Linked DNA regions of Homo sapiens: region 1 is linked to region 2. Evidence: fine-mapped expression QTL. A gene starts in region 2. The other region holds a variant in brackets. All regions are shown on one strand. Distances are from middle to middle.

Region 1 (11,430 bases), 32 kb before region 2:
GGCAGGCGACCGCCTTCTTGCTGTGACCTCACACAGCAGAGTGGAGTGAGCACGCACTCTTGTCTCCTCTATGAGGGCACTAATCCCGCCACGAGGGCTCCACACTCGTGACCTCATCACCTCCCAAGGCAGCAACTCCTAATACCAGCTCAGGGAGTTAGAGTTTTAACATATAGTCTGGAGAGTGGGTGGGGACAACACTTGCTGCAATTCAGCCACCCAGGCTGCGCTGCGACATTTACACCATGTGCCCCCAGTGACGGTCAGTAACTCAAAGAGGACCCCCAGCCTGGAAATGGGTGGTCTCTGGCCCCATAGGAGGGGTAAAGAATGAAGCGGGGAGGCCTGATTTATAGTGAGTGAGCTCCAGTAACTTAAGAGAAGAAAACCTGACCTGCTTATGCCAGAAAATGTTATGACTCGGCCCTGCGCAGTGGCTCACGCCTGTAATGCCAGCATTTTGGGAGGCTGAGGCAGGTGGATCATGGGGTCAGGAGTTCGAGACCAGTCTGGCCAACATGGTGAAACCCCGTGTCTAATAAAAATACAAAAATTAGCCAGGTGAGGTGGCATCGTCCTGCAGTCCCAACTACTTGGGAGGCTGAGGCAGGATAATTGCTTGAACCTGGGAGGTGGAGGTTGCAGTGAGCCGAGATCATGCCACTGTCCTCCAGCCTAGGCAACAGAGCAAGACTCCGTCTCAAAAAGAAAAAGAAAAAAAAAAGAAAATGTTATGACCCAAAAATAAATTCTGGAAATGCTCTGGAAATTCAAGGACTCCCTGATCTGTATTCATCTCCTAAGGTGACTGTGAGAAATCGCCACACACTGGGTGACTGAAAACACAACACAAATGTGATTTTCAGAGTTCTGGAGGCCAGCAGTCCGGTAGCAAGGTGACAGTAAGATCCAATTCCGCCCCCCCCCCCGACTCACGTCACAGGAAATTAAACATTTAAGCTGAAAAAATGTTCAAACCAAGCAGGGCAGTGCCCATGCACAGAAGTGAGGCCCAACGGGCGAAGCGGACTCATCCTCCCTCCTCATGCCAACAGCAGCTCAAAGCTTCTCAATGGCAAAACTTCTACCAGGTCCTGTCTAAGGCCAAGATTCCTCCTAAAACCCAAACCATCCCCGAGGGGGCCAGCTCCTCGGTCCCTTCAGCAGGAGGGTCCCTGAGTCTGGAAAGAGGAGCTCAGCTCCAAGGGGTGGTGGTGGAAGATGCACCCTTCTGTGTCTTGTGCCAGGGGTCCCCACCTGTGGGCAGCAAGCCACCCAGGTGCCAAGGCAAGAGACCGAGGGCACAAGCTGTTCCAGTATAATAAAATATATAAAATAACAAGAGTTATACTACATATAGATCATAGATATATGTAAGTACCACTAATCATCAGTTTGTAGTAATTACTCTTTATTCAACTATTATAATAATCCTCGCTCTACAATCATAACCTAGGAAAAGCCAGGCCATACAGAGATAGGAGCTGAAGGGACATGGTGAGAAGTGACCAGAAGACAAGAGCATGAGCCCTCTGTCACACCCAGACAGGGCCACCAGAGGGCTCCTTGGTCTAGCGGTAATGCCAGCGTCTGGGAAGACGCCCGTAGCCAAGCGGACCGTGTTCTAGCAGTAGCATCAGTGCCAAGGAAAAGCACCGGCTACTTAGCAGACCGGGAAAGGGAGTCTCCCTTTCCCTGGGGGAGTTTAGAGAAGACTCTACTCCACCACCTCTTGTTGAGGGCCTGACCCGCCCACAGTTATCCGGAGGCCTAACCGTCTCCCTGTGATGCTGTGCTTCAGCGGTCATGCTCCTGGTCCGCTTTCATGTTCCATCCTGTACACCTGGCTCTGCCTTCTAGATAGCAGTAGCAAAATTAGTGAAAGCACTAAAAGTCTCTGATATGCAGAAATAATGGTGTAAGCTGTCTCCTCCCTCTCTTTCTCTCCACCTTGGCTGCCAAATAGGGAAGGGCCCCCTGTCCAGTGGACACGTGACCCACGTTACCTTACCTATCATTGGAGGTGGCTCACACTCCTTACCCTGCCCGCTTGTCTTGTATCCAATAAATAACAGCACAGGCTGGCATTCGGGGCCACTACCAGTCTCCACGTCTCAGTGGTAGTGGTCCCCCAGGCCCAGCTGTCTTTTCTTTTATCTCTCTGTCTTGTGTCTTTATTTCTACGATCTCTCGTCTCCGCACAAGGGGAGAAAAACCCACAGACCCTGTAGGGCTGGTCCCTACATCCACCCTTTCCCTGAGCAACAAACGCTGGTTGCAGCACCCAAGCGTCCTTCAGGAGCTCCGAATCTCTCCCGTGTGGAAGTGGCACATAGAGGCTGCCCCCCACCCCCAGTGTGCCCAATCCGCCCATAGGAGGTGGCTAGAGCTGTAGTGCCCTTCTGTCCAGTGGGATGAAATCTGCCACCCCACAGCAGGGCAAGATGCGAGAAGCATGCTGCGTTAGTCTGTTTTCTGCTGTTATAACAGAATATCCCAGACTGGGTAATTCCTACAGGAAAAACATTTGTTTCTTGTAGTTCTGGAAGCTGAGAAGTTCAAGGACACGGTGGCAGCATCTGCTAAGGGTCTTTGCATTCTTGCTGTGCCATAACATGGTGGAGGGCACATATGCAAGAGGGCAGGAGAGAGAGAGCCGGAGAGAGCTTGCCTCTATAACAAAGAGATAAGCAACTCACTCCCACAACAGCGACATTAATCCATGCATGAGGGCAGAGCCAACATTAATTTATTCATGAGGGCAGACAAATTAAGTTTCCAACACATGAAATTTGGGGGACATTTTCAAACCATAGCATATGCCCTGAATCCAGGCAGAGAAAGTGTCCCCTCAGTGCACAAATATTGTCACAGCTGCCTGCTCTGAATGCTGCAAGGTTTTGGAGAACGTTAAAGCTACTTCTTTTTTTTTTTTTTTTTTTTTTTTTGAGATGGAGTCTCACTCTGTCACTCAGGCTGGAGTGCAGTGGCATGATCTCTGCACACTGCAACCTCTGCCTCCTGGGATCAAGCGAGACTCCTGCCTCAGCCTCCCGAGTAGCTGAGATTACAGGCATGTGCTACCACATGTGGCTAATTTTTGTATTTTTAGTAGAGATGGGGTTTCACTATGTTGGCCAGGCTGGTCTCGAACTCCTGACCTCAAGTGATCCACCCGCCTTAGCCTCCCAAAGTGCTGGGATTACAGGCATGAGCCACCGCTCCCAGCCAAAGCTACTTTTTAACTGGGTTCCTGATCTTTCTTGGCCTGTCTCTGCTCCCAGCCTTGCCTTACTGCTCCTGCCTCTGACCTCCCGCTTTGGATCTCAGGCAGGACCAAGTCTAATCTCAAAAAGCTTGGTCTGATGCCCTGGGGTTGGTCCCTTGTCTTCCCCTCACACTCAGCCCCTCCTCACTTCCTGTGCACTAAGGGACACTCCTTGTCTGACAAGCCTTGATTTAGTGTCCCTATGACCATGCCCTGACCCGGGGCTCGATTGAAGGCTCAAATAAGACAAGTGGCCTCATTCAGTTGTTCAATAAATACTTCCTGAGCACCTGCTCGGTGCTCAGCCCCATGCAAAGCAGTGGTGACAGTGGGAAGACAGTGGTGAATAAGACAGACATGGTCCCTGTCTTCAGAAAGTTGCCACTCAAGTGGAGAAGTAAAAAAGAAAAAAAATAATAGTGCTTCCGGCTCCATGATGCAGTGGGTTTGGGGCCCCGGGCAGCGAGGATGGCACCAAACTAGTGTTTTGGGGTCAGGGAGGATTTACCAGGCAAATTGAAGTCTAAGGCAACAACCTAAAGGAGAGGAGTAGTTAGCCAGGTGGTGGGCCAGGGATGCTGGGGAGTCACTGGAGGCAGGGACAGACTGCGATCTCATTCTGGAAAGATCACTCTTGCTTCAGTAAGGAGGAAAAATACAGCAGACAAACTAGAGGGTCACTGGATTGCATGGTGGGCTCACTAAGGTTCCAGGTGGTTTGGAATCAGCTTTCCAAATTCAGAAACTCAATCTCAATACCCGGAGGTGGGAGTGCCATATTTAGCAAATTAAAAAATCACCTAGCTAAATATGAATCTCAGATAACACATATTTAGTATAAATATGCCCCAAATATTGCATGAATTCAAATTTAACTGTGTTCAATATTTTATTGGCCAACTCTACCAACAGTGACCAAGTCTTCATGACTGTCTTATGTGCACCAAACTCACAGGGATCTGATGTAAATACACCAATTTATTGATTTACAATTGCAGGCAAGGTTAAAATATACATGTTATTCAGTTTCTCCTTTCTGGAAAATGAAACAGTCAGAAGACTGGTGAACATGGAATGAGGACAAAAGGACACAAGGAAGTTTGAAAGGAAATTTCATCTCAAGGCATGGTAAATTCTGGAGAATCATCCTGGCCTCCCTACAGAGAATCCTCTTTGGTGGCAGAAAGTGCAGGTCCCCCCTGGAGAGGGCAGGTCAGGGACCACCGGGTCCTCGTGTGCAGCTCCCTGTGGAAACACGTGGTTCTTCTAGCTCAACCATCATCTGCTGGTGGTTGATTTCCCACTGTACTCTCAGGAGGTGTTCTTTCAAAGCTTTGGGGCTCCTGACCCAGCCTTCCAATTACAATACAATATATTTCACATTGAGGTTACACTTTAGAATGTATTCAGTGGGCTGAATTCATGTAGCTATTTATTCTGCCTTCTTAAACCCAAGGAGAGCAATCAGGTACTCTTCTGATTAAGAAATCACAGGCTGGGCACGGTGGCTCACGCCTGTAATCTCAGCATTTTGGGAGGCCGAGGTGGGCAGATCATGATGTCAGGAGATCGAGACCATCCTGGCCAACATGGTGAAACCCCATCTCTACTAAAAATACAAAAATTAGCTGGGCGTGGTGGCGCATGCCTATAATCCCAGCTACCCGGGAGTTTGAGGCAGGAGAATCGCTTATACCAGGGAGTCGGAGGTTGCAGTGAGCCGAGATTGTGCTACTGCATTCCAGCCTGGTGACAGAGTGAGGCTCTGTCTCAAAACAAACAAACAACAAAAAGAAATGACTTTAGGCAACATAGTGAGACCCCGTCGCCACACACACACAAATACAAAATTAGTCGGGTATGGTGGTGCACGCCTGTAGTCCCAACTACTCAGGAGGCTGAGGCAGGAGGATCACTTGAGCCCAGGAGTTCGGGGCTGCAGTGAGCCATGATCACACCACTACACTCCAGCCTGGGTGACAGAGGGAGATCGTGTCTTTCAAAAAAAAAAATCACTTCAGAAACGGGGTACCCATACCCAAGGGGTCACTTGCTCTTACTAATTTCTAGCTGTAATGCAAGTGGCATGATCATAGCTCACTGCAGCCTCCAACTCCAGGGCTCAAAGGATCCTCCTGCCTCAGCCTTTTGAGTAGTTGGGACTACTGTGGCATGCACCACCATGGCCGGCTAATTTTGTATTTTTTGGTAGAAATGGGGTCTTCCCCTGTTGCCCAGGCTGGCCTCCAACTGCTGGGCTCAACTGATCCTCCCGCCTCAGCCTCCCAAAGTGCTGGGATTACAGGCGTGAGCCACTGTGCTGGGCCATGATTCTCATCTCCCAATATTCTCAAACCCAGTCCCTTCATCTCTTGACTGGATTATGCAGTCTCGGAGCTGGTTTATCTGAACTCACTTTCTCCCCCTTTGATCTGTTCTCCACACAACAGCCAGAGAGGTCTTTCAAATGCATGAATGGGATCACTGCTCCGCATAAAACCCTTCAAGGGGCCAGGCGCGGTGGCTCACGCCTGTAATCCCAGGACTTGGGGAGGCCGAAGCAGGCGGATCATTTGAGGTCAAGAGTTCAAGACCAGCCTGGCCAACATGGTGAAACCTCGTCTCTACTAAAAATACAAAAATTAACCGGGCATGGTGGCAGGCGCCTGTAATCCCAGCTATTCGGGAGGCTGAGGCACGAGAATAGCTTGAACCCGAGGCGGAGGTTGCAGTGAGCCGAGAAAGCGCCACTGCATTCTAGCCTGGGCGACACAGCGAGATTCCTTCTCAAAAAAAGAAACCTTCAGGGGCTCTCCACGGCACTGGGAAGCAGCCAGCCCGACGGGTGGACCCTTTTCGTGGGTGCGGGTCTCTGACCTCGGTCGGCCTCGGACCTCATCTCCTCCCTGTTTGAGGGGCCACACTCCTCGCTCCGGGGCTTTGCAGCAGCCCTGGGCGCCTACCGGACAGACGCCGTTCTCCCCGCCTGGGTCTTGAGTAGGGCCCAGCACACAGTAGGCGCTTAATGTCTGCCTGCCTAACAGACGAACGCCGGATGCCCGCGTTCGGCCCCGAGCCGGCGCTTCGGGGCTTTCTGTGGAGGCGGGGCGATGGTTACAGCACAGTTCCCCCGCGCTCGCCTTTTCCACATCCACCTCCGCGAGGCCCCCCGCAAGCGCCGTTGGAAACCTAGTCCCGAGGGGGCTGCAAGAGCTTGGGAGAAGAAGCGCCAACACCGACAGAATACCAGGCCGACCCAATGCGGAAATCAATTCTCAGCCGGGACCTTTTCCCCACCAAGCAGGCGGGCCGGAAGTCTGCCTCTGGCCCGCCCCCGAGGTGTCATTGGGTGGAATACCCAGAAGAGGGCTGGGACGTGGTTAACTCTAGTTCTTTATTGGTTAAAACGTACGAAGCTGGAGGAGAAGGTGGGACCTAGCTTCCTCCGGACTTCTCATTGGCTCAAAAAAAAACTCGCTCGGCCCTCGGATTCTCATTGGCTGAAGTCGAGGGAGGTTTGTGTCTTATTATC[C/T]TCCGGGTCCCTCGCTGGCTAGTAGGAGAGACTGGTGCTTGCCCCGCCCGGTGGACTAACTCGCTTAATTTTAAATAAAAAGTCGAGGACACGGCGGTCGTTTTCCCGAAGACATGGGCCCTCCCATGGGCCATTTGCTCCCTGGAGGCCCTCGCGTCTTGCTGAGCCCGGGGAGTTAGGATGACGCGAGCGGTGAGGGAGCCCGGAACGATTCCTTCGCGGAACAATTGAGGCGAGGCCTTTGGGAGTACTTTGTGGGACGGACCCTGGCGGGCCCTGCCAGACGCACAGGGATGGCGGCGGAGGCGGCCGATTTGGGGCTGGGGGCCGCCGTCCCCGTGGAGCTGAGGCGGGAGCGACGCATGGTGTGCGTGGAGTACCCGGGAGTGGTGCGTGATGTGGCTAAGATGCTGCCGACTCTGGGCGGCGAGGAAGGCGTCTCCCGGGTAAGGGGCTGGGAATCTCGGTGTTGGAATAAGAGCTCGGAGTCGCAAAGAAAACGAGCACTCAAAGGATTTCTCAGCAAGGGAAATTTAGCAAATTTACTTACGCAGAAGGGTGCTGCTCGCTCTTCTGGCCGCTGCAAGAGAGCCAACAGAACAAAGAAGGGAAGGATTTTTGTTTTTGTTTTTGTTTTTTTGTTGGTTTTTCAGGCGGAGTTTCGCTCTTGTTTCCCAGGCTGGTGTGCGGTGGTGCGATTTTGGCTCACTGCAACCTCCGCCTCCAGGGTTCAAGCGATTCTCCTGCCTCAGCCTCCAGAGTAGCTGGGATTACAGGCGCATGCCACCACGCCCGGCTAAATTTGTATTTTTTAGTAGAGAGGGGGTTTCACCATGTTGGTCAGGCTTGTTGGAAATAAATTTTGGGTGCCGCAAAGAAGAATCAGCACTCTGGCAAACAGTTTTCTCAGCAAGGCAAATTTCCTTCTATAGAAGGGTGCATCTTGCGGATGGAGCAATGGCGAGAGCACACCGACAAGGAAGGGGAAGGGGTTCCTATCTCTTACACAGCTAGTCTCTACTGCTGTGTCTTTCCCATATTGGCTAGGGTTGGACCGCACAGTCTAAGCTAATTCCGATTGGTTATTTCAAAGAGGGCAGGGGCACAGGCCTGAGTGGCGGGGTGAGTAGTTTTGGTGGGAAGGATGGTTACAGAGCAGGTGACTCAGGATGACTAAGGACAGAGCAGGTGATAGAAGCTAGGAAGGGGTTGTTTACTGAAACTAGGGGCAAGGAGGCGTAAAGAACGAGGGGTTAAACTTTAAAATGGAGAACAAAGAACAGGGAAGCTGAACATACTGACATATTGGTTCTTTGAAATGGAACTCATAACTCATTGTATTTATTAATTTTCCCCCTCTTGAATTTAAAGGAAGGTAAAAGGCTAAAATCTTTGAAGTGGAATTTACTGTGTCCTATAGGCTGGTCTTGAACTCCTGAGCTCAGGTGATCCACCCGTCTTGGCCTCCCAAAGTGCTGGGATTATAGGCGTGAGCCACCGTGCCCAGCCTGGAATGGGTTTTTATCCCTAAGGCAGTCAGTCCCTGTTTTTGTGTCCTGTCCCTGCTGGTTGGAGTTGGACCACACAATCTAAGCTAATCTCAATTGGCTATTTTAAATAGAACAGGGGTGTGGGTTACAGTGACGGGACGAGCGATTTCGGTGGGAAGACTAGTTTCGGCGGGAAGGGCAGTTAAACAGAGCGGGTAACTAAGGGCAAGGAGGCACAAAGAACAAGGAAGTTAGACTTTGAAGATGGAGAACAAAGAACAAGGGAGTTGAACAAGCTGAACCTTTGAAGAAGAATTCACTGTATAGAACAGTTTCCCCCTCTTGATTTTCATACTTCTTTCTCTTCAAACCTTTTTAGCATGTCTCGACTTTGCTGTTCTTGGTTTTCTAAAAGTAGAAGTTTGTCTGAATAAGGCGGGGGGAAATTGGAGGTTAGTGAGAGCTGTCTCCGTAAGTCTTTGTATTAACCCTCAGGCACAGGGTATGATACAACATCCTACGAGAATAAACACGTTTATTACAATGGCAAGGGACATAAGGATCGAGGACATAAGTCCTTTCCACCTGCCGAACAATCTTCCCGTTAGATCAGTGAAGAGATCGTTTATCCCAGAATTTTAAGCTAGCTCATTGGATAAAGCAGTAAGACCTTGCAGTGCCTTTGTTATGGTTCCGTCAGGAACAGTATTATTTGGGATAAAAGTACAACATTGGGTTCCAAGCATGACACAAACGCCACCCCTCTCTGCTAGTATCATTTCTAATGCTATTCTATTTTCCCAAGCCATTTGACTGGTGGGTCCTAGTTGTTCAGCTGTTCCTTTGATAGCATTCCTAGTATAATTAACAAATTGTTGCTGGTTGTAATAGATGTAACTTATCCAATCTACATTTTTATTTATAGTTAACCACCAGAAAAACATAGACTCAAATCCCGCAGCTATTTGATTACAAGCCTTAAATTCATCAGGTACCCCTCGGGGAACTCCAGTGGCATCTGTATAAACACGAGGGTCAAAGGAACCACGGGGGGCATCTCTTACTCTACGGTGTCTTGTTTTTACTTCTTCTGGTTGATGAAATGCCAGAGTGAAAGGGATGGCCAATTGGATCAGAGCACAGGTACCGCTCCAGTTACTTGGCAGAGTATCCAGTTACGGTCCACCACAATGCCACCATACATCTGCTCAGGATAAATGACTAGGGGCAGATTCATGGGTAAGCTCTTGGAAGGGCTTAAGCTCACTGCATCCTGTTAGGTCCCCAAGGAATGCCAAATTTTCCCTGTCACAAGAGACACAAAGTAAAATTGGCACTGGGAGACAGAAGCTGGATAGCCCTCAGGGGCTGACCCGCAGGGTGTTGAACCTCAGGGAACAGCAGAGAGAGAGCTCGGCACGATTTATCACCCCAGGCTGTGGGGTCCTGGAAAAGAGCTACCGTACAGCCCATGCCCACTCGTCTGGAGGACCATCCAAGTGGAAAGGGGACAGTCTGGGCTTCTGGTCTACTGTGTGCACAAGTGTAACAATCACTTTTGTTTAAAGTGCGGACAGAATATTTAATCCATTCCATCCAGGCGTTTGCATCTCAGTACCCTGTTTCAATTGCTAGAGTTTGCTTTAGGTCTCTTACTTCTACAGCTGCTACTTTGGCTGGGTCGTTGTGGAGACCGGAGGGGAACACTGGGCCTGATATGTTTGGGGAGAGCGTTGGGTCCCATACGTTCCCTGGACTCTGGGTCTGGGTTTCTTCATTGTTTTTAACCGCCGATGGTCCAGTCAACCTTAGAGAGGGTTCCTATGGGATCCCGTCCTGTAACATCTGCTCCTAACCCGTACCGTCCGAATACAGAGGGTTCTTGGGCCATTGTTTGGGGATTATCTATAATTAGCAATAAGGGGTTACACCGCAGTGGCTTACAATTTGGTGGAGTGGAGCGATGGATAAGTTAGAGTTTTTGTTTGAGTTTCCGCAACTTATTTAAAGGAGGGGGGTTGGCTGTCCGCCTCCCATATTGACTGGTCCACCAAACATTTGCCCAGTCACCACAGGGGCCCTTTAAGGCTCCATACTTATACTTGTTTGACTGTCTGCGATATGGACATGGATACTTAACTACATCGGATAGCTGCCTTTGAGCTTGTTCGTATCTGCACGGGGTAAGAACAAGTGTCGAACTGAAGGGTCAAGGGATGGTTAGCCTGAGTCACATTGATGACAAGATGACCTTATGTTGGAAAGAAAAGGAAAAATAGACAAGTGATTATTAAGCCCTTTTTAGGGTTAGTTTGGTAGGGGTGGGTCCCGGGGTGACAGCCCATTTTTCCCTGTCTGTGGACATTACTCCTTTCACCTGGCGTGTAGTGTGCCCATCCCTTTTCAGCCGTTCGAATCGCTGTTTCAGTAGTTAAGAGTACCAGATAAGGCCCTTCCCAAGCTGGTTCAAGTTTTCCCTCCTTCCAGCTTTTGATGAGAACGTGATCCCCAGGCTGATGCTGGTGTGCTGGAAACTCTAGAGCTGGCGTCTGTGCTCAGAGGCCTTCAGTCCTGAGGGAAGAAAAAGTGGAGGAGAGACCAAGTTTATAGTTTTTAAGAAACTGATCTTTGTTTCAAACGTAGCAATGTCAGCAATGGAGTGTAGATAAGGCAACCCATATAGCATTTCATAAGGGGATAAGCCAACATCTTTCCAAGGGGCAGTTCGGATTTTTCACAAGGCAATGGGAAGGCATTTAGTCCATGGCAACCGAGTCTCTAAGACTAATTTGGTTAAGTGACTCTTCAGAGTTTGGTTCATTCTCTCCACTCTTCCTGATGAAGGTGGGTGCCAGGGAGTGTGGTATTCCCCTGCTATGTCTAGTACTTGGGCTAGTTTCTTGACGGCATGTGCAGTGAAATGAGTCCCATTATCTGAATCAATATTTTGTATTAATCTGTTAAACCTGGGTATAATATTCTCAATCAATGCTTTAATTACATTATTAGCAGTTGCACTTGAAAAGGGAATAGGTTCCCTCCAGTGCGTAAGGTGATCTACTATCACTAATAAGTACTTTAGGCAACCGACTGGGGGCATTTCGGTGTAATCAATTTGGACACTTTGGGACGGTCTTAAC
Region 2 (8,000 bases):
AAATGGTGTGTTCACTCCTGAGGGTCCATGGGCCCTTGAAGCTGCTCATGGCTCCCCTGCTGCAGGATTCCCCTGGGTGCCCGTCAAACTACAGCTTCCCTGGGGGGCCTCCACCCCATACTTACCCACCAGCTTCTTAAGAGCTCGAGCTCGGACCCTTATAGTAGTAAACAGGCTCCCCAGAGCCTGGTGGCCTTTCTGGGGCCACCCGGCAGCCTGCATGGGACACCCATGGCCTTGTCTCCTCCGGCCCCAGCTCTCTTTTCCAGCTCAGCCAAGGCTGATGGCGGAAAAGAGCAGCTGACGTACGAGTCTGGGGAAGACGAGGAGGATGAGGAGGAGGAGGAAGAGGAGGAGGAGGACTTCAAGCCATCCGACGGCAGTGAAAACGAAATGGAGACAGAGATTCTGGACTACGTGTGACAGGGCCCAAGGCTGGGCCTCCCTGACCCGGCCAGACTGGTGTCTGGCCTAATGAGGGAGCCGGGGCTCCCCATTGCCACCCACAGTGCCCGGAATGGCCCTAGGAGGCCCTCTGAGGAGAGCTAGAGTCCCAGCAAAGGGTGCAGCTGACCCTAGCACTGGCTGTGACATGCTGCTTGGTGCTGCCTCTGGTCCTGAGGGGTTAGGGACATCCCCAAAGGGTATACCCTGGCTCTGCCACCCATGAACCAGCCCAGCATCCAGCCAGTGAGTGGGCACCCAATGCCTCTCAGGATGAGACCAGTAAATGCCGGAGGTGGAGCTGGGCAGCTGTGGAGCCCCAGGCCACAGGCCAGTCTCGCTTGGCTCTCATGACTGTGGTGGTGGAGATAGCGTGGGGAGCCTCGCCCATGGTCTCACGTGGCAAGAAGTGCCTTTAGCTCTGGATCCCAACCGTTTGGCACAGCTTTGGCCACAGCCAGGCCCCTCTGGAATTGTCCTTATTAAACCAGTTTCCCGAGAAGTCTTGGTTTCTTGGTGTGAATGTTGGCGCTGCAGGGGAGTCTTCTTATTGCCTTGGGGCTTGGGCCCCCTTTGTCCCTTCATATATTCCTTCATTCATTCCTTCATTCATTCAGTGACATGCTGGCAGTGCTGGCCTGTGCCCCCCTCACATGTGGTCGGGTTGGGTGAGGGCAGCTAGGAGGACTCCAGGCCTGGGGTCAGTTCTTCTCTAAATGAATACCTTCTTGACAAAGTCATGGGAAACGGGCCCTGCTGTCCTGTGGCTGCCCAGTGTGAAACTAGTGGGTCCTGAGCCCACCGAGCCTGCCTGCCTGGCCCCGCTCCCCATGTTGCCCTTGGCTGAGGCACCTCTTGTGTCTCCCCAAGTCGGCAGCAGCACTCCCTCCCAACCTGTGTGCGTGCCGAGTATTTGTTGAAGAAACAGTCAGTTGTCAGAGAATGGCCCTGTTCTGGATTGGCTGGTTGCTTCTGTGTGGTGCTGAACCTGCTCCTCTCTCCCCTGTATTTCCTGGGGACAGGTGGAGGCTCAGCCAGATTCGGGTTCAAGGTCTCTTCCTAGGCTGCGTCAGTCTGCATGCACGGGAGGTCTGCTTACTAGGATTGACCAGCAGGTTTAGGTGTTGTCAGCCTGATGTGTTGGTCTTTTATCTAACGGTTTTTGGGTTTCTGTGGTTTTTTGTTTCATTTGTGGGTCTTTTTTTTTTTTTTGAGATGGTCTTGCTTTGTCACCCAGGTTGGAGTGCAGTGATGCAATCAGGGCTCACTGCAGCCTCAACCTCCTGGGCTCGGGTGATCCTTCCACCTCAGCCTCCTGAGTAGCTGGAACTACAGGTTGTGTACCGCCATGCCCAGATAATTTTTGAATTTTTGTAGAGATGAGGTCTCACTAATGTTGTCCAGGCTGGGCTCAAGGGATCCTCCCGCCTCAGCCTTCCAAAGTACTGGGATTACAGGTGTGAGCCACTGCGTCCAGCCTATTTAATGGCTTTTGAATAGCCGTTGATAATTGCCTGGACCTACTACTTCCTTAAGGGTGCAAAATGGTGATTTTTTTGAATTATATCGTTCCCTCTGCATTTAGTAGCTGGAATCCTATAAAGGAATCTTCCTCATCGTCTGTTTGATTACCCTGAAATACTATTTTCACAGAAAAGAAGGGAAAATGCCTGTTATCACCTCTAACAGTTTTCAGAACAATGAGTTAGTGCCCTGGCAAGGGCCAGTGACAGGGCAGGAGGGGGTGGAGAGCGTGTTTCCTGGGCTGCCTGGTGAACTCTCACGTCTGTCAATTGCAGGCTTGCTTTTTCATGCCCAACTTGTCTATCTTTGCCCAGAGGCGGCCTCAGGTTGACCTCTGTAGTCCTTTGACACAAGCCTTGGGTCTTGGGCACCTTCCTTACTTACAGCTACCACGATGCTGCAGGCTCCAGCCCCTCCCTGGCATTTCCTGTTGCGGACCCGGCCCAACCATCTCCCCAGGGTGCACTCAGTCGGTGTGAATATGGTGTTTAGAGACCCCAGTCTGGTCACCAGGGGTGGGGCTTGCTCCTGGGATTTCGTTACTGCTAGGGCTTTGGAAGAGACAGAGCCAGGAAATAAGTTTTTTTTTTTTTTTTTTGCCAATTTTAAAAAAATAAAGTATGAGGCTGGGCACGGTGGCTCATGCCTGTAATCCCAGCACTTTGGGAGGCTGAGGCGGGCAGATCACTTGAGCTCAGGAGTTTGAGACCAGCCTGGCCAACATGGTGAAACCCAGTCTCTACTAAAAATACAAAAATCGGCTGGGTGTGATGGCGCACGCCTGTAATCCCAGCTACTTCAGAGGCTAAAGCAGGAGGATCCCTCGAACCCAGGAGTTCAAGACTGCAGTGAGCTATGATTGTGCCACTGCACTCTAGCCTGGGTGACAGAGACCCTGTCTCAAAAAAACAAACAAACAAAAAACCTCTGTGGACTCCGGGTGATAATGACATGTCAATGTGGATTCATCAGGTGTTAACAGCTGTACCCCCTGGTGGGGGATGTTGATAACGGGGGAGACTGGAGTGGGGCGAGGACATACGGGAAATCTCTGTAATCTTCCTCTAATTTTGCTGTGAACCTAAAGCTGCTCTAAAAATGTACATAGATATAAACTGGGGCCTTCCTTTCCCTCTGCCCTGCCCCAGCCCTCCCCCACCTCCTTCCTCTCCCTGCTGCCTCCCCTCTGCCCTCCCCTTTCCTCCTTAGCCACTGTAAATGACACTGCAGCAAAGGTCTGAGGCAAATGCCTTTGCCCTGGGGCGCCCCAGCCACCTGCAGGCCCCTTATTTCCTGTGGCCGAGCTCCTCCTCCCACCCTCCAGTCCTTTCCCCAGCCTCCCTCGCCCACTAGGCCTCCTGAATTGCTGGCACCGGCTGTGGTCGACAGACAGAGGGACAGACGTGGCTCTGCAGGTCCACTCGGTCCCTGGCACCGGCCGCAGGGGTGGCAGAACGGGAGTGTGGTTGGTGTGGGAAGCACAGGCCCCAGTGTCTCCTGGGGGACTGTTGGGTGGGAAGGCTCTGGCTGCCCTCACCCTGTTCCCATCACTGCAGAGGGCTGTGCGGTGGCTGGAGCTGCCACTGAGTGTCTCGGTGAGGGTGACCTCACACTGGCTGAGCTTAAAGGCCCCATCTGAAGACTTTGTTCGTGGTGTTCTTTCACTTCTCAGAGCCTTTCCTGGCTCCAGGATTAATACCTGTTCACAGAAAATACGAGTCGCCTCCTCCTCCACAACCTCACACGACCTTCTCCCTTCCCTCCCACTGGCCTCTTTCCCTCCCCTTCTGTCACTCTGCCTGGGCATGCCCCAGGGCCTCGGCTGGGCCCTTTGTTTCCACAGGGAAACCTACATGGTTGGGCTAGATGCCTCCGCACCCCCCCACCCACACCCCCTGAGCCTCTAGTCCTCCCTCCCAGGACACATCAGGCTGGATGGTGACACTTCCACACCCTTGAGTGGGACTGCCTTGTGCTGCTCTGGGATTCGCACCCAGCTTGGACTACCCGCTCCACGGGCCCCAGGAAAAGCTCGTACAGATAAGGTCAGCCACATGAGTGGAGGGCCTGCAGCATGCTGCCCTTTCTGTCCCAGAAGTCACGTGCTCGGTCCCCTCTGAAGCCCCTTTGGGGACCTAGGGGACAAGCAGGGCATGGAGACATGGAGACAAAGTATGCCCTTTTCTCTGACAGTGACACCAAGCCCTGTGAACAAACCAGAAGGCAGGGCACTGTGCACCCTGCCCGGCCCCACCATCCCCCTTACCACCCGCCACCTTGCCACCTGCCTCTGCTCCCAGGTAAGTGGTAACCTGCACAGGTGCACTGTGGGTTTGGGGAAAACTGGATCTCCCTGCACCTGAGGGGGTAGAGGGGAGGGAGTGCCTGAGAGCTCATGAACAAGCATGTGACCTTGGATCCAGCTCCATAAATACCCGAGGCCCAGGGGGAGGGCCACCCAGAGGCTGATGCTCACCATGGGGCGCCTGCAACTGGTTGTGTTGGGCCTCACCTGCTGCTGGGCAGTGGCGAGTGCCGCGAAGGTAAGAGCCCAGCAGAGGGGCAGGTCCTGCTGCTCTCTCGCTCAATCAGATCTGGAAACTTCGGGCCAGGCTGAGAAAGAGCCCAGCACAGCCCCGCAGCAGATCCCGGGCACTCACGCTCATTTCTATGGGGACAGGTGCCAGGTAGAACACAGGATGCCCAATTCCATTTGAATTTCAGATAAACTGCCAAGAACTGCTGTGTAAGTATGTCCCATGCAATATTTGAAACAAATTTCTATGGGCCGGGCGCAGTGGCTCACACCTGCAATCCCACCAGTTTGGGAGGCCGAGGTGGGTGGATCACTTGAGGTCAGGAGTTGGAGACCAGCCTGGCCAACATGGTGAAACCCCGTCTCTACTAAAAATACAAATATTAATCGGGCGTGGTGGTGGGTGCCTGTAATCCCAGCTACTCGGGAGGCTGAGGCAGGAGAACCGCTTGAAGCTGGGAGGTGGAGATTGCGGTGAGCTGAGATCACGCTACTGCACTCCAGCCTGGGTGACAGGGCGAGACTCTGTCTCAAAAAATAGAAAAAGAAAAAAATGAAACATACTAAAAAACAATTCACTGTTTACCTGAAATTCAAATGTAACTGGGCCTCTTGAATTTACATTTGCTAATCCTGGTGATTCCACCTCTCTGTTGTTCCCATTTTACAGAAGGGGAAACGGGCCCAGGGGCAGGGAGTGTGGAGAGCAGGCAGACGGGTGGAGAGAAGCAGGCAGGCAGTTTGCCCAGCATGGCACAGCTGCTGCCTCCTATTCCTGTGCAGGAAGCTGAAAGCCGAGCTACTCCACACCCGGGTCCGGGTCCCTCCAGAAAGAGAGCCGGCAGGCAGGAGCTCTCTCGAGGCATCCATAAATTCTACCCTCTCTGCCTGTGAAGGAGAAGCCACAGAAACCCCAAGCCCCACAGGAAGCCGGTGTCGGTGCCCGGCCCAGTCCCTGCCCCCAGCAGGAGTCACACAGGGGACCCCAGATCCCAACCACGCTGTTCTGCCGCCTGCGGTGTCTCAGGCCCTGGGGACTCCTGTCTCCACCTCTGCTGCCTGCTCTCCACACTCCCTGGCCCTGGGACCGGGAGGTTTGGGCAGTGGTCCTGGGCTCCTGACTCAAAGGAGAGGTCACCTTCTTCTTGGGCGAGCTCTTCTTGGGGTGCTGAGAGGCCTTCGGCAGGTCATCACGACCCCTCCCCATTTCCCCACCCTGAGGCCCTCTGGCCAGTCTCAATTGCACAGGGATCACGCCACTGGCACAAGGAGACACAGATGCCTCGCAGGGGATGCCCACGATGCCTGCATGTGTTGCTTCTGGTTCCTTTCCTCCAGTTCCAACCGCCGCACTCTCCCACACCAGTGTGACAGGGGGCCCATCACCCTAGACTTCAGAGGGCTGCTGGGACCCTGGCTGGGCCTGGGGGTGTAGGGCCACCCTGCCCTTCCCCACCTGGAACCTGGCACAGGTGACAGCCAGCAAGCAATGACCTGGTCCCACCATGCACCACGGGAAGAGGGAGCTGCTGCCCAAGATGGACAGGAGGTGGCACTGGGGCAGACAGCTGCTTCTCAACAGGGTGACTTCAAGCCCAAAAGCTGCCCAGCCTCAGTTCCGTCAGGGACAGAGGGTGGATGAGCACCAACCTCCAGGCCCCTCGTGGGGGTGGACAGCTTGGTGCACAGAGGCCATTTTCATGGCACAGGGAAGCGTGGCGGGGGTGGGAGGTGTGGTCCCTAGGGGGTTCTTTACCAGCAGGGGGCTCAGGAACTGTGGGGACTTGGGCATGGGGCCATCGACTTTGTGCCCAGCCAGCTAGGCCCTGTGCAGGGAGATGGGAGGAGGGAAAAGCAGGCCCCACCCCTCAGAAAGGAGGAAGGTTGGTGTGAAACATCCCGGGTACACTGAGCATTGGGTACACTCCTCCCGGGAGCTGGACAGGCCTCCCATGTGATGGCAAACAGGCCGACAGGAGACACGGCTGTTGCTCGTCTTCCACATGGGGAAACTGAGGATCGGAGTCAAAGCTGGGCGGCCATAGCCAGAACCCAAACCTCCATCCCACCTCTTGGCCGGCTTCCCTAGTGGGAACACTGGTTGAACCAGTTTCCTCTAAGATTCTGGGAGCAGGACACCCCCAGGGATAAGGAGAGGAACAGGAATCCTAAAGCCCTGAGCATTGCAGGGCAGGGGGTGCTGCCTGGGTCTCCTGTGCAGAGCTGTCCTGCTTTGAAGCTGTCTTTGCCTCTGGGCACGCGGAGTCGGCTTGCCTTGCCCCCTCCGGATTCAGGCCGATGGGGCTTGAGCCCCCCTGACCCTGCCCGTGTCTCCCTCGCAGCTGGGCGCCGTGTACACAGAAGGTGGGTTCGTGGAAGGCGTCAATAAGAAGCTCGGCCTCCTGGGTGACTCTGTGGACATCTTCAAGGGCATCCCCTTCGCAGCTCCCACCAAGGCCCTGGAAAATCCTCAGCCACATCCTGGCTGGCAAGGTGGGAGTGGGTGGTGCCGGACTGGCCCTGCGGCGGGGCGGGTGAGGGCGGCTGCCTTCCTCATGCCAACTCCTGCCACCTGCAGGGACCCTGAAGGCCAAGAACTTCAAGAAGAGATGCCTGCAGGCCACCATCACCCAGGACAGCACCTACGGGGATGAAGACTGCCTGTACCTCAACATTTGGGTGCCCCAGGGCAGGAAGCAAGGTCTGCCTCCCCTCTACTCCCCAAGGGACCCTCCCATGCAGCCACTGCCCCGGGTCTACTCCTGGCTTGAGTCTGGGGGCTGCAAAGCTGAACTTCCATGAAATCCCACAGAGGCGGGGAGGGGAGCGCCCACTGCCGTTGCCCAGCCTGGGGCAGGGCAGCGCCTTGGAGCACCTCCCTGTCTTGGCCCCAGGCACCTGCTGCACAGGGACAGGGGACCGGCTGGAGACAGGGCCAGGCGGGGCGTCTGGGGTCACCAGCCGCTCCCCCATCTCAGTCTCCCGGGACCTGCCCGTTATGATCTGGATCTATGGAGGCGCCTTCCTCATGGGGTCCGGCCATGGGGCCAACTTCCTCAACAACTACCTGTATGACGGCGAGGAGATCGCCACACGCGGAAACGTCATCGTGGTCACCTTCAACTACCGTGTCGGCCCCCTTGGGTTCCTCAGCACTGGGGACGCCAATCTGCCAGGTGCGTGGGTGCCTTCGGCCCTGAGGTGGGGCGACCAGCATGCTGAGCCCAGCAGGGAGATTTTCCTCAGCACCCCTCACCCCAAACAACCAGTGGCGGTTCACAGAAAGACCCGGAAGCTGGAGTAGAATCATGAGATGCAGGAGGCCCTTGGTAGCTGTAGTAAAATAAAAGATGCTGCAGAGGCCGGGAGAGATGGCTCACGCCTGTAATCCCAGCACTTTAGGAGGCCCACACAGGTGGGTCACTTGAGCGCAGAAGTTCAAGACCAGCCTGAAAATCACTGGGAGACCCCCATCTCTACACAAAAATTAAAAATT

The links.
Region 1: its variant is fine-mapped to the expression of CEL in whole blood (TOPMed, PIP above 0.99).

What each region holds. Positions count from the first base shown.
Region 1 is chr9:133,023,919-133,035,348 of GRCh38, forward strand. GTF3C5 (general transcription factor IIIC subunit 5) reads left to right here and starts at 7,079. Exons shown (of 11, transcript NM_012087.4): 1 at 7,079-7,246. The coding sequence starts at 7,094. LOC105376306 (a long non-coding RNA gene) reads right to left here and starts at 6,504. Exons shown (of 2, transcript NR_135119.1): 1 at 6,232-6,504; 2 at 4,234-4,513. RefSeq lists enhancers at 6,260-6,509, 6,744-7,395, 6,840-7,099. The variant C/T (reference allele first, on the strand shown) is at 6,801.
Region 2 is chr9:133,057,558-133,065,557 of GRCh38, forward strand. CEL (carboxyl ester lipase) reads left to right here and starts at 4,424. Exons shown (of 11, transcript NM_001807.6): 1 at 4,424-4,511; 2 at 6,847-6,997; 3 at 7,083-7,205; 4 at 7,483-7,680. The coding sequence starts at 4,446. It overlaps GTF3C5 (general transcription factor IIIC subunit 5), which reads left to right. Exons shown (of 11, transcript NM_012087.4): 11 at 257-946. The coding sequence ends at 423. LOC124902325 reads right to left here and starts at 3,775. Exons shown (of 2, transcript XM_047424377.1): 1 at 3,192-3,775; 2 at 524-617. The coding sequence starts at 3,775. The coding sequence ends at 524. RefSeq lists enhancers at 2,635-3,386, 3,387-4,139.